Linked DNA regions of Homo sapiens: region 1 is linked to region 2. Evidence: fine-mapped expression QTL. A gene starts in region 2. The other region holds a variant in brackets. All regions are shown on one strand. Distances are between the middles of the regions.

Region 1 (5,369 bases), 220 kb after region 2:
ACCCAATGTTCACCTGTTGAAGGCAGGACCATCTAGATCATGAAGTCATTTTTCTTACAAGAACTTAAAGCTAAGACCTCTACCTGAGATCTTCCTCTGCCACCTCCTGCATCTTCACATCATCCTTGGTTCACTGGAAAGAGCCCTGGCCTGGTTTGGGAAATCTGGGTCATCCTGCTAGCCTCACACTCCCTGGGGCCAGCAGTAACCACCAGTGCCAGTCACTTAAACCTGTAAATGCAATTTTCCCTTATTTCATGATTTTCCTCACCCAATCACTTGGGAGAGCTAGTGAATAAAAGTGCATTAGAAAGTCTAAAGCTTCATAGAAATAGGAGATGGGGAGATAAGCAAAAGAGAGTATGGGCTTTGGGCTTAGACTGGCGCTGGGGAAAACCAACTGATGCTGGGGTTCTGAGCTTGGCTCAACTGTTTGCCAGCATTGTGACCTTCAGCAAATTTCTTAACTTCCCTGGGCCTCTGCTTCTCTGGGATAGCTCAGAGCAGATTACATGGATGAATAAGGAAAGAGAAGGAGGATAGTAACAATTCCCAAGTGCCCGTACACCACGATGAGTGCCTTGTGCATCTCCTCTAACCTTCAGAGGTATTTCAGAGGTATTTCTGATCCCTGTTTTATAGAGGTGCCAAGAGTCATTCTGCCCAAGGTCACAGGTAAGTGGTGAAGCAGAATTTGGACTGAGATTGACAGCCCTGTTCTGCTTGCTGCCAGGGACCCTCAGGAACACCCTGGTGTAATCATCTCTTCCCAGTACAAGGCAAGGAGCCAACTTAATTAGAGAGTTTATTTATAAAGAATTTCACAAGGCCCCACCCAAGAAACATGTCAGTACCTTTGAGACCAGCACTGACCTTTTGCATATGAACTGCTCTTGTGTTTTGGTCAACTGATCTCACACCAGGCCTGAAGCCAAAACCAAGAACATTCATTTCAAAAGAATGATTTAAACAAAAAGAAAGAAAGAATACCACCCTCTGGCACTGTGTTTTAAAGACAGTGTACACCATCTATAAGCCCCATTTTGTCAAGAGGGACAGAGGCCCAGGAACAGACTCATTTGGAAGAAATAAATTGTCTGTTCTTATGAGCACTGATGCAGAGGACCCCTCCATGAAAAACAAAGAATATCAATTTTTTTTAACTGACAGACATTGAAAAGCAATAAGATTTCCTTTTTTCTTTTCTCTGTTTTCCTGGTCATGTCTGTTGAGCCATCCTGACACTGCATCTAACAAAGGCCAGAGAATTCTTCCCCTTAAGAGACCCTCAGACAGAAGTGGGGCACACATCACCCGGTGGGGTGGGGAACATTATAATTTACCGCACTCCAATCACCAAAAGCTCCTTGCTGCTCCCCGGCATCAGACAGTCACATACAATTCACAAATTTGTAAATTTTTGAGGCTCCCAGCAGTCCTTTGAGGTGGATATTGCGTCATGATGTCATCATAATAGGTTTGTTTGCCCGATGCACAGTAAGTCAATAAACCAAGGCAACAGGGATTGCAGCAAAGAAAGAGTTTAATAATCATACGGCAGCCAAACAAGGAAACAGGAGGAAACCTCAAATCCACCCCTCCAGGGAGTTGGAGCTAGAGATTTCAAGGGGTTTGAAGTGGGCCAAGGTCCAGGATTATTGATTGGTCAAAGAGTGCAGAGTAAAGTCATGGGACAGGGAAATGAAGAAACTGCATTCTCGTGCTGATTCGATTCCTCTGTGGTTGTTTTCAAACTGGTTGGCATTAGCTTTCCTGCTGGAATTCAGGATCTGAAGAACATCTTAGGCAATTCTTAAACAAAAGCCTTATGAGTCCATGGTCACTGATCGTAGCTATAGGAACAATGGGGATATAAATCAATTCGTAAACAAAAACCTATGATTCTAAGGTTAGAAATCCTAGGTATAGGAACAATGAGGATGCAGATGGTCAGTATCTAGTGCTACCTGACTCTCAGTTACAAGGAAGTGGGCCAAAGTGTGGCCTGATTAGTGCTTAATAGAACTATATTTCTGCACAGGACCCAGGATGTAATTTTTGTTATCCCTGTGAGGACCGTTTCAATGATACTCATTTTACAGATGAGATAAGCAGAGATCAAAGAGGAGAAATGATTTGCACAGGGCTGCATATCACACGCACACGTTCTTCCCACTGATTCTGGCATCCATGCCAGGGGAGGTAAGACTCCAGAGAGTTCTGCCAGGCCTTTTGGAACACAGCCTATATGTCTGCTGAGGGCTTCTCTAGCCAAAACGCTCAGGCACAGCCCATTCTTACCATCAGCAGGCAGGAGAAGCATGATCCTAAAACCAGGGGAGGCCCCCTGCCCTACTGAGGCGTGGGGCACAGGGCAGTCTTCCAGCAAGCTTCCTGGAAGTGAAACCAGCCACATCTCTGGAATCTTGGAAATAGCTGTACCGGGGAGCAGTTGGCATCACTGCCGACAGGTGGCCATGGCAGGCTTGTTTTCCAGGAAGACCACAGATGATGCAGACAATGGGTTTGTTACATTTTGGGGTGTGTGTCTGTCCATGTGTTGGGGGTAGGGGAAGCAGCTTTCTAAAATACAAACATCTGCCTCCATTAAGCCTCCAGATCAATAGGACACTAGCGGCAGACCCTGATCTCTTGCTTGACTCTTGGTCTTCACCCCCAGGAGACCTCCATACCAATAGCTCTGTCCTCCAGGGGTGAAGCTGGAAGA[C/T]AAAGGAGGCACTGTGATGGGCCAGTGAATGCTGCTCAGCCTTGTTCACGTCATGACACTCCTAGAAAAGAGTGGTAGCTATACAACTCAGCAGGTCGATGGAGGAGGCTGCTAACAGCTGAAGAGAAGGACCTAGAGGCCCCTGGCCACTCTAACAGATAATGGATCAGCAGCCAAGGGCACCGATTCAGATGATCTGGGCAATGGGCCCTGAAGTCAGACGGTCCTGAGCTCTTCGGTAGCCTTGCTGCTCAGTGTGCCCTATGGAAGTACTGGCAGCATCCGTATCACCTGGGAGCCCCTTAAAAATGCAGAACATAGGCTGGGCACAGTGGCTCACACCTGTAATCCCAGAAGTTTTCAGGAGGCTGAGATGGGAGAATCACTTGAGTCTAGGAGTTCAAGACCAACCTAAGCAGCATGGTGAGACCCACCCCCACCCCCAGCCCGTCTCTACAAAAATTAAATAAATAAATAAATAAAAATTAGCTGGTTGTGGTAGCATGTGCCTGTGGTCCCAGCTACTTGGGAGGCTGAGGTAGGGGGATCACTAGAGCCTGGGAAGTCGAGGCTGCAGTGAGCTGTGATCACACCACTGCACTCCAGCCTGGGCAACAGAGTGAGACCCGGTCTCAAAAAAAAAAAAAGGGAGAATGCAGACCTGTTTCCAGACCTGCCAACTCTGAATCTACATTTTAACAAAATGCACAGGTGATTTGCAGGCTGTTCTGCATAACCACTGGTTTTGACCAAGGGATGCAAACTCAGATGCCCAAGGGACCAGGCATTACCATGAGTCAGAAGCCCAGGCTGGGAGTTCGAGGCCATCCTGCAAGAGAAGTCACAACTTAGCCCCAGCCAGGGAAGCCTGATTTCCAGATTCTTTTATAACAATCAATTCTCAGGCCGGGTGTGGTAGCTCACGCCTATAATCCCAGCATTTTGGGAGGCCGAGATGGGTGGATCACAAGGTCAGGAGTTCAAGACCAGCCTGGCCAACATGGTGAAAACCCATCTCTACTAAAAATATAAAAATTATCCGGGTTTGGTGGTGCACGCCTGTAGTCCCAGCTACTTGGGAGACCAAGGCAGAAGAATTGCTTCAATTCTTCAGGAAGCGGAGGTTGCAGTGAGCTGTCATCACACCACCGCACTCCAACCTGGGCCACAGAGTGAGACTCTGTCTCAAAAAAAAAAAAAAAAAAAAAAGAAAGAAAGAAAGAAAAGAAAAGAAAAAGAAAAAGAAAAAAAGAATCAATTATCTGGGGTCTCCAATATCCAGACTCCTTATTTTTAAATATTGGCAACTAATTTAAAAATCTTTTGAAACACTGTATACGTCAAATAAAACAGCCACCCACTTAGGGTATCTTAGGGAGCCAGTTTAGTGCCTCCAGCTTCAGACAGAAGACACTGAATTTGGCCTTACCCTCTCTGTATAGGGGACCATTGAGCTTAATGGTTAAGGCCACAGGATGTACAAAGGACCTAAGAGTTTAAATCTGACTCAGCCAATTCCTAATTATATAACCTTGGGCGAGCACTTGACGTGCGATCTTTGTTTTTCTCACCTGTAAAATAGCCCCAGTTGGCCGGGAGCTACGGCTCATGCCTACTATAATCCCAGCACTTTGGGATGCCAAGGCGGGCCGATCACCTGAGGTCAGGAGTTCGAGACCAGCCTGGCCAACATGGCGAAACCCGTCTCTGCTAAAAACATAAAAATTAGCTGGGCGTGGTGGTGGGCGCCTGTAGTCTCAGCTGCTCAGGAAGCTGAAGCACAAGAATTATTTGAACCTGGGAGGCAGAGGTTGCAGTGAGCCGAGATTGCACCACTGCACTCCAGCCTGAGTGGCAGAGCGAGACTCAGTCTCAAAAAATAAAAACAAAACAGGGCCAGTAAATGTCCCTAGTGGAAAAGGGATTAACCTAAAGACTGATTGAGGTAACGCACTCTTAAAAAATTGTAGATACTTAAGAGATGTTGATTTGCTTCCTCTAGCGCCTGACTGTGCACACAGATCACCCAGGGGATCTTGTTAAAATGCAGGCTCTCATTCACTAGATCTGCAGTCCCGCCTGCCTGGGGTTCTGAATTTCTAACAAGCTCCCAGGTGATATCAATGCTGCTAGACCATGATCTAGGCAAGGGTCATCAAAGTTTTCTGCACAGAGCCAGATGCTACCTATTTGAGGCTTTGCAGGGCACATGGTCTCTGCTGAAGCTACTCAGTCAGCTCTTGTAGTGGGAAAGCAACCACAGACAATACGTAAATGAATGGGCAGTGCTATCTTCCACTGGAACTCTACTCATGGACACTGAAATTTGAATTTCATATCATGTTCCCACTTCGAATAATATTGTTCTTTGATTTTTTTTCCCGACTACAGTAGCTCCCCCTTATTGGCAAAGGATACATTCCAAGACTCCCGGTGGAAGCCTGAAACCATGAACAGTACCAAACCCTACATTTACTGGGTTTTCCTATACATACACAACTGTGATATAGTTTAATTTATAAATTTAGGCACAGTAAGAGAGAAATAATAATAAATAATAATAAAATCAGACAATTATAGCAATCTACTGTCACAGAAGTCATGTGAATGTGGTCTCTCCCTCTCAATATGTCCTGCTGTA
Region 2 (5,369 bases):
TTATGAAGAGGAGCGAGGGAGCTATTTCTTGTTTCAATCCAGAGAAATTGTAAGAAACTTTCTGCATTGCTCAGACCCACCGCAGGAAACCTAAGCAGTAAGCAGACGGGAAGGCCCCCATTGGAAGCAGGATCTACTCATGCTTGTTTTCACTTTTCCGTGGTCAATTTTTAGGGTAGAAACCCCAAAGCAAAGGGCAAGGGGGAAGAATGGGGACCTACTCCCACTACATACCAAAAAAACGCAAGTGAAGTCACCCAGCCCATTTTCCAGCAGAAAAGGACTTGGGCTGCACCCCTGCACACCCTGATTCCACCTGCCAGCCTCCTGGCCGCACGTGTGTGATCCTGCTGGGCAAAACCAGAACTCAGCTGCAGCAGCAACTCCCCACACTAATCAGGTGGGAATGTTACCAACTGGGATGAGGAGGGAAAGGGTAAGTGGAATGTGGGTGGAGGTGGAGGAGGGAGGAAAACCCTCCCCAGTCTTCAGGCTGCCCAAAAGGATCTTTCTAAGCAATCCACAAATCCTGGGCCAGCTGGGTTCCCCCAGGAGAGGGGAGGATGTACCATGCAGGCCCCAGGGAGCCTCTTACAAGGGTGACCTCAGGTCACACAAACACCCTCAGCTGCCAACTGCACTGACATTCTGGTCACCACACCCCCACTCTGACCTCTAGGCTCAGCCCAGCCCACCAGCAGTGCCCCTCCCGGCCCTCACTGCCTCCCCTGCCAAGCTCCTACCTCCTCCCCCTCCTCACCACAACACGCTGGTAGAGTCCCTCACCCAAGACTCAGTGGAAAATTTCCTTCTCCTTTATGACTGTACTTAAAACACACACGCTCCATTCTTCACCTCTGAATCGACACAGGCAGAGGGCGGCAAGGCTGTCCCACCCCACCGCCCAGCCCAGCCCAGTGCACACACACACACTCTCCCAGCAGAGCCACTGGACTTGCACGCTTTATGGGCTGGAAAGGAGGAGAGAGATGTTTCCCAGATGCCACTCCACCTTTAGCCATCCAAACACAAGTGTCCCAAACACTCCCAGACAAGCCTCCCAGGATGCTCTCGGGGCCCTCCATACACACTAAGGAGTAGGAGGTCTCTTTACAGGGTCTCTCTACTCAAGACACTAAGTCCAGTCTGGAACTGTCACCGTGATGTGACCCTTGGCAGGTTTGTTCTTTTGGTGACAAATCTGTTTTCCACTACCCATTCTCCCCCTCCCCACACACATTCAAGGGGGAAAAAAATAGCCTTCCTGTGAATTTTCACAGCTATGTGGTGAGTGACCCCTCGCACCTTCTGCTGGCTATCAACACTCTCAAACACAGTGCCTCCAGGGCGTGGGTCAATGCCACAGCTTTCTCCTCATTTTCCCCCTTAAATCCACCCAAACTTGGCAGTCCCAGAAGCTCGGTTAGCGCTTGCCTGGGAAGCCTGCAGCTGGGTTGGGTCTCAGTGAAAAGAATGAATTTCATAGGCGCAGGAGATGATGCAGACTCGGAGTACTCCAAGTTTCTCCTGCAACTTTCCGTGCACATGGCGGGCAACTTTTTTTTTTTTTTTTAACTATTCAATTTCCCAGCACTTTAGTTAGCATTCCAAGTTTTGGGAACCCTTTCCCCACCCTTCTCTTCTAGCCCTTCCTCCGTTAGTAGTGAATGGGGACATTTTCCAGATGTCAAAAGGACCGGTAGGAACCTCACGACCTAAGTTAGGAAAGCAAAGGCGGCCAGGGGCTCCCTCAGCCACTGTGAGTTTCCTCTGCAGGGCATCTTCCCCTCTCAGCTATGCCAGCGCCCCCGCCCAAGGACATCGAGTTTCTCCACTCCGCCCCAACCCCGTCTGCCCCTCTCCTGGGGCAGAGGAAAGGAGTGGGGCTCGCCCTGCCTCCCTAAGCAGCGCTGCAGTCCTGGCTGCAGCGTGGGGCTCGGGCGGGGCACCAGGAGCGCTTACCGATGTCGGAGTTGCAGAAGGCGTCCTGGGGGTGGCTGGGCGAGCATGTGCACGCCTCGGCGCCCCAGTCCCCCAGGCTCCAGCTGCCCAGGAGCACGATGAGCCCGAGCCAAGGGGTCATTGCCGCTGCTGCCGCCGCTGCCGGGGCTGCTGCTCGCCTCTCCAAAGTTGCCGTGCGCGCCGCCGGCGGGGCTGCTGCAGCCCGAGCTCGCTCGCCCGCCGGGCCGTGCGGGGCAACCTTGGCCTCCGGCGCGCTGCCCTCCGAGTGCCCGGCGGGACGGGATGGGGCGCAGCGAGGCTGCCTCGGCGCTGGCGCAGGACTCGGCGGGCGGCCTCCCGGCGAAGGAGCAGGAGCTGGAGGAGCAAGAGGAGGAGGAGAAGCCGTCTGAGCGCCCGCCGCCTGCCTGCTGCCCGCTCTGCGCCGCTGCCTGGGCGGCCGAGTGATATAGCGCTGGGCCCCCGGGGACCCCGCCTCGGGCTGTTGGGGCCCGCCCCCTCAGACCAATGGCAGAGCCGCATTACCTCATCGGCCCTCCAAAAAGGGGGCGGGGCCGGGGGCAAGGGGTAACGGGGCGGGGCCGCCCCCGGATCGTTCAGATCCTTATAGGGAATAATGCCGCCGTGGGCACGCGAGTGGGTGGGCTGGGGCGCGCCCGGGACCGGTGCTTGCCGCTGGGTCCTCGGAGCGGAGCCCTCGTGCCCCTTCTCGTCTGCGCCCTGGCCCCACGCCCACCTGGGCCACTGGGTGTCTCTGACCCAAACCAGAACCAACTAACACCCACCCACCCCAGCAGGACCGCTTCCACAGGTGAGGGGTGGCCATGTCCTAGAGACCTTGACTGTGCTTGGTGGAACCAGCGGGGGAATGCTAACTGCTACCCCTCCAGTTTCTCTGGAGAGAGCAGGCACAGAGGAGAAAGACCCAAACTCTCTCTCTTTCTCTCTCTCTCTGGTTCTTACTCTCTGGGATATGGGAAGCCATCTGCTGTTTGCAGCTGGCTATGATATATGATAGAAGACTGTTTTCTGTGCTCTCCCAGAGCAAACGGGGTTCTGTATTCATTCAACAAACACGGTTCAGGATGCTGGGTTAAGCAACACAAAGCCCTTGCCCCCGTGGACATCCATGAATGCACAGGGTGATTTTCTGTGATGCTAGGGCTATGAAGAAAACAAAACAGAGTTCTGGGTTGGACATGACTGGGGAGGGCCTGCTCTCTCTGCGATAGTAAGGGAAGGGCTCCCTGAAGTGCCATCCTCGCTGAGAAGTGGACAAAGACAAGGATCAGCTCTGGGGCAAGCCACAGGAGAGAGGTACCAGGCAGGGGGAACAGCAAGTGCAAAGACCCTGGGCATGTTTGAAAGACAGAAAGTAGAAAGGCAAGAGGAAGTGGTTCCCTGCCCATGGCTGACAGAGCTCCACCCTTCAGCAAGGGATTTGGGGGTGAGCTGATCCAAAACTGTAGTAAAACCAGGAGAACGATCCAGGATCCTAGACGACTAGCTATAATAGATGATTGCAGATAACTAACACAATTACTATCCTTATTATTGACATCTTGATTCTGCTTTGTATTTTTAAAAGCAGGATTCTGTATCTCACCGTATTATAGCTCTCACAATAATCTTTGTGGGTAGGAAAAGCAAGCACAAGTATCACTCCCACTTTCCAGATGAGGAACCGGCACAGAAAGATGGGATGATTGGTGGCCAGCCAGGAACTCGTCACCCCTTTCCACTGCTCCTTCCCATCTGAAGAGAGACATGCATTTCCCTGAACGTCAGCAGCTGTTCCATCTAACTGCAAATGGCCATTTGCAGCTGGGATCTTCCATCTTTCTACACTTTTGTCTCTTTCCCTTTCTCTTCCGCTTCATCCTGTTAGAAATGCCACAAGTTTGGAACAAATAGAAACAGGGAGAAATGCAAGTTCAGCTTCTTTCTCAGAACTCCTCTGTTTACATCTCAGACAAGTGACATTGGGACAGCAGAGGCCGAAGAATTCGTGAGAGATGGTATTTCCAAGAACATTTTTGAAACTCCTTTTTCCCCTTTGAGCACTTTAGCCATAGGAAAGGGAAACCAGTTTCCACATCTTTTTGACTTGTCCCCTCCACCCAGCTTTAAAAACCTTCCCTGCCTTCACTCTAACTGTGGCCTAACTCGTAGAGATGTTTCTGTCTCTCGATGTTTTTCTAGCACTGTTTTCATTGTTTTATGGGGTATGATTCTATTGCTTCCCCAACCACAGTAGGAATACTTTGAGGCCTGGGATATTTAGCCACACTGCTTTTTAGCCCTCTCAGAACCAAATAGGGTCTCAGGAGACTGGAGAGCATGGGTGTGGCCAACAGCTGACTGAGTCCTGAGCAGAGTGCCCTGGAGGCCACTCTAAGGATCCAGGTTGAATGAGGGCATACGTGGTGGAATTTGAGAGATTCGCTTATCCCCGCGCCCCACATGACTTATTCCACAGTCATGTGGAAGGTTTTAGAAGACTTTCCAGACCAAATCCACTTTGGATAAGCATCTTACATGATAGAGGCCCTCTCTTCCCTTTCTTTTCACATTTCAGTTTTGTCCAAAGTGCCGATATTTTCTCCAACGGAAGGCCTTGCCTGGAATATAAGTATCAAGTAGATAACTTCTGCTGAACTTCAAGCAGCAGTTTTCTCATAGAAAGCATCTGAAGCGTTTTTTTCCAGCAGCTACTTAATTATGAAAGCACAAGTATAATCTGATCTTTTTTCCAGCTGAAAAGTAACGAAATTACCTTTTGGTTAATTTCTTCTCACTCCCTATCCTAAGCTGGTCCACACAGTGTCTTGAAGTTCAGCGAATTCCAAGAGCTTTTCAGTTGGGATGTTCTCTCTTATTCCAAACCTGAGTCAGTTCCCCTCTGCCCACCGTGTGAAGGCAGTTTGGTTCTCACCCTAAGGAAAAGAAACAGCAAACTCCATGAATCCTTGCGTAGGGGAGTCCTCCTGCTAGGGTCACCCCCTTCAGCAGGCACCCATCAGTCTGGATGTCATGGTGTCCATGAGCCTAATAATATGTAAGAATTGGTTATTCAACATCACTTAATAAGCTAGGTGGGGTGAACCTGAGGCTAACAGTAAGAATGAAGATGCAGGCTGGGTGCGGTGGCTCACGCCTGTAATCCCAGCACTTTGAGAGGCCAAGGTGGGCGGATCACGAGGTCAGGAGATCGAGACCATCCTGGCTAACATGGTGAAACCCCGTCTGTACTAACAACACAAAAAATTAGCCAGGTGTGGTGGTGGGCGCCTGTAGTCCCAGTTACTTGGGAGGCTGAGGCAGGAGAATGGCGTGAACCTGGGAGGCGGAGCTTGCAGTGAGCTGAGATCATGCCACTGCACTCTAGCCTAGGTGATGGAGTGAGACTC

Which allele goes with the higher level. Positions count from the first base shown, and alleles are read on the strand shown. Sizes are in standard deviations (SD) of each study's normalised expression.
In carriers of allele T in region 1, the expression in fibroblasts of the gene that starts at base 2,380 in region 2 tends to be higher than with C alone (small effect, 0.16 SD a copy in GTEx).

Evidence for each region.
Region 1: its variant is fine-mapped to the expression of TIMP3 in fibroblasts (GTEx, PIP 0.94).

Annotation. Positions count from the first base shown.
Region 1 is chr22:32,580,361-32,585,729 of GRCh38, reverse strand. All of the region lies in intron 7 of SYN3 (synapsin III), which reads left to right. SYN3-AS1 (SYN3 antisense RNA 1) reads right to left here. Exons shown (of 4, transcript XR_001755503.2): 2 at 1,344-1,853; 3 at 84-231. Among named protein-coding and RNA genes, the nearest start is that of SYN3-AS1, 8.1 kb to the right of the region's middle. The variant C/T (reference allele first, on the strand shown) is at 2,729.
Region 2 is chr22:32,798,716-32,804,084 of GRCh38, reverse strand. It overlaps TIMP3 (TIMP metallopeptidase inhibitor 3), which reads right to left and starts at 2,380. Exons shown (of 5, transcript NM_000362.5): 1 at 1,963-2,380. The coding sequence starts at 2,083. The region is part of intron 6 of SYN3 (synapsin III); the gene reads left to right.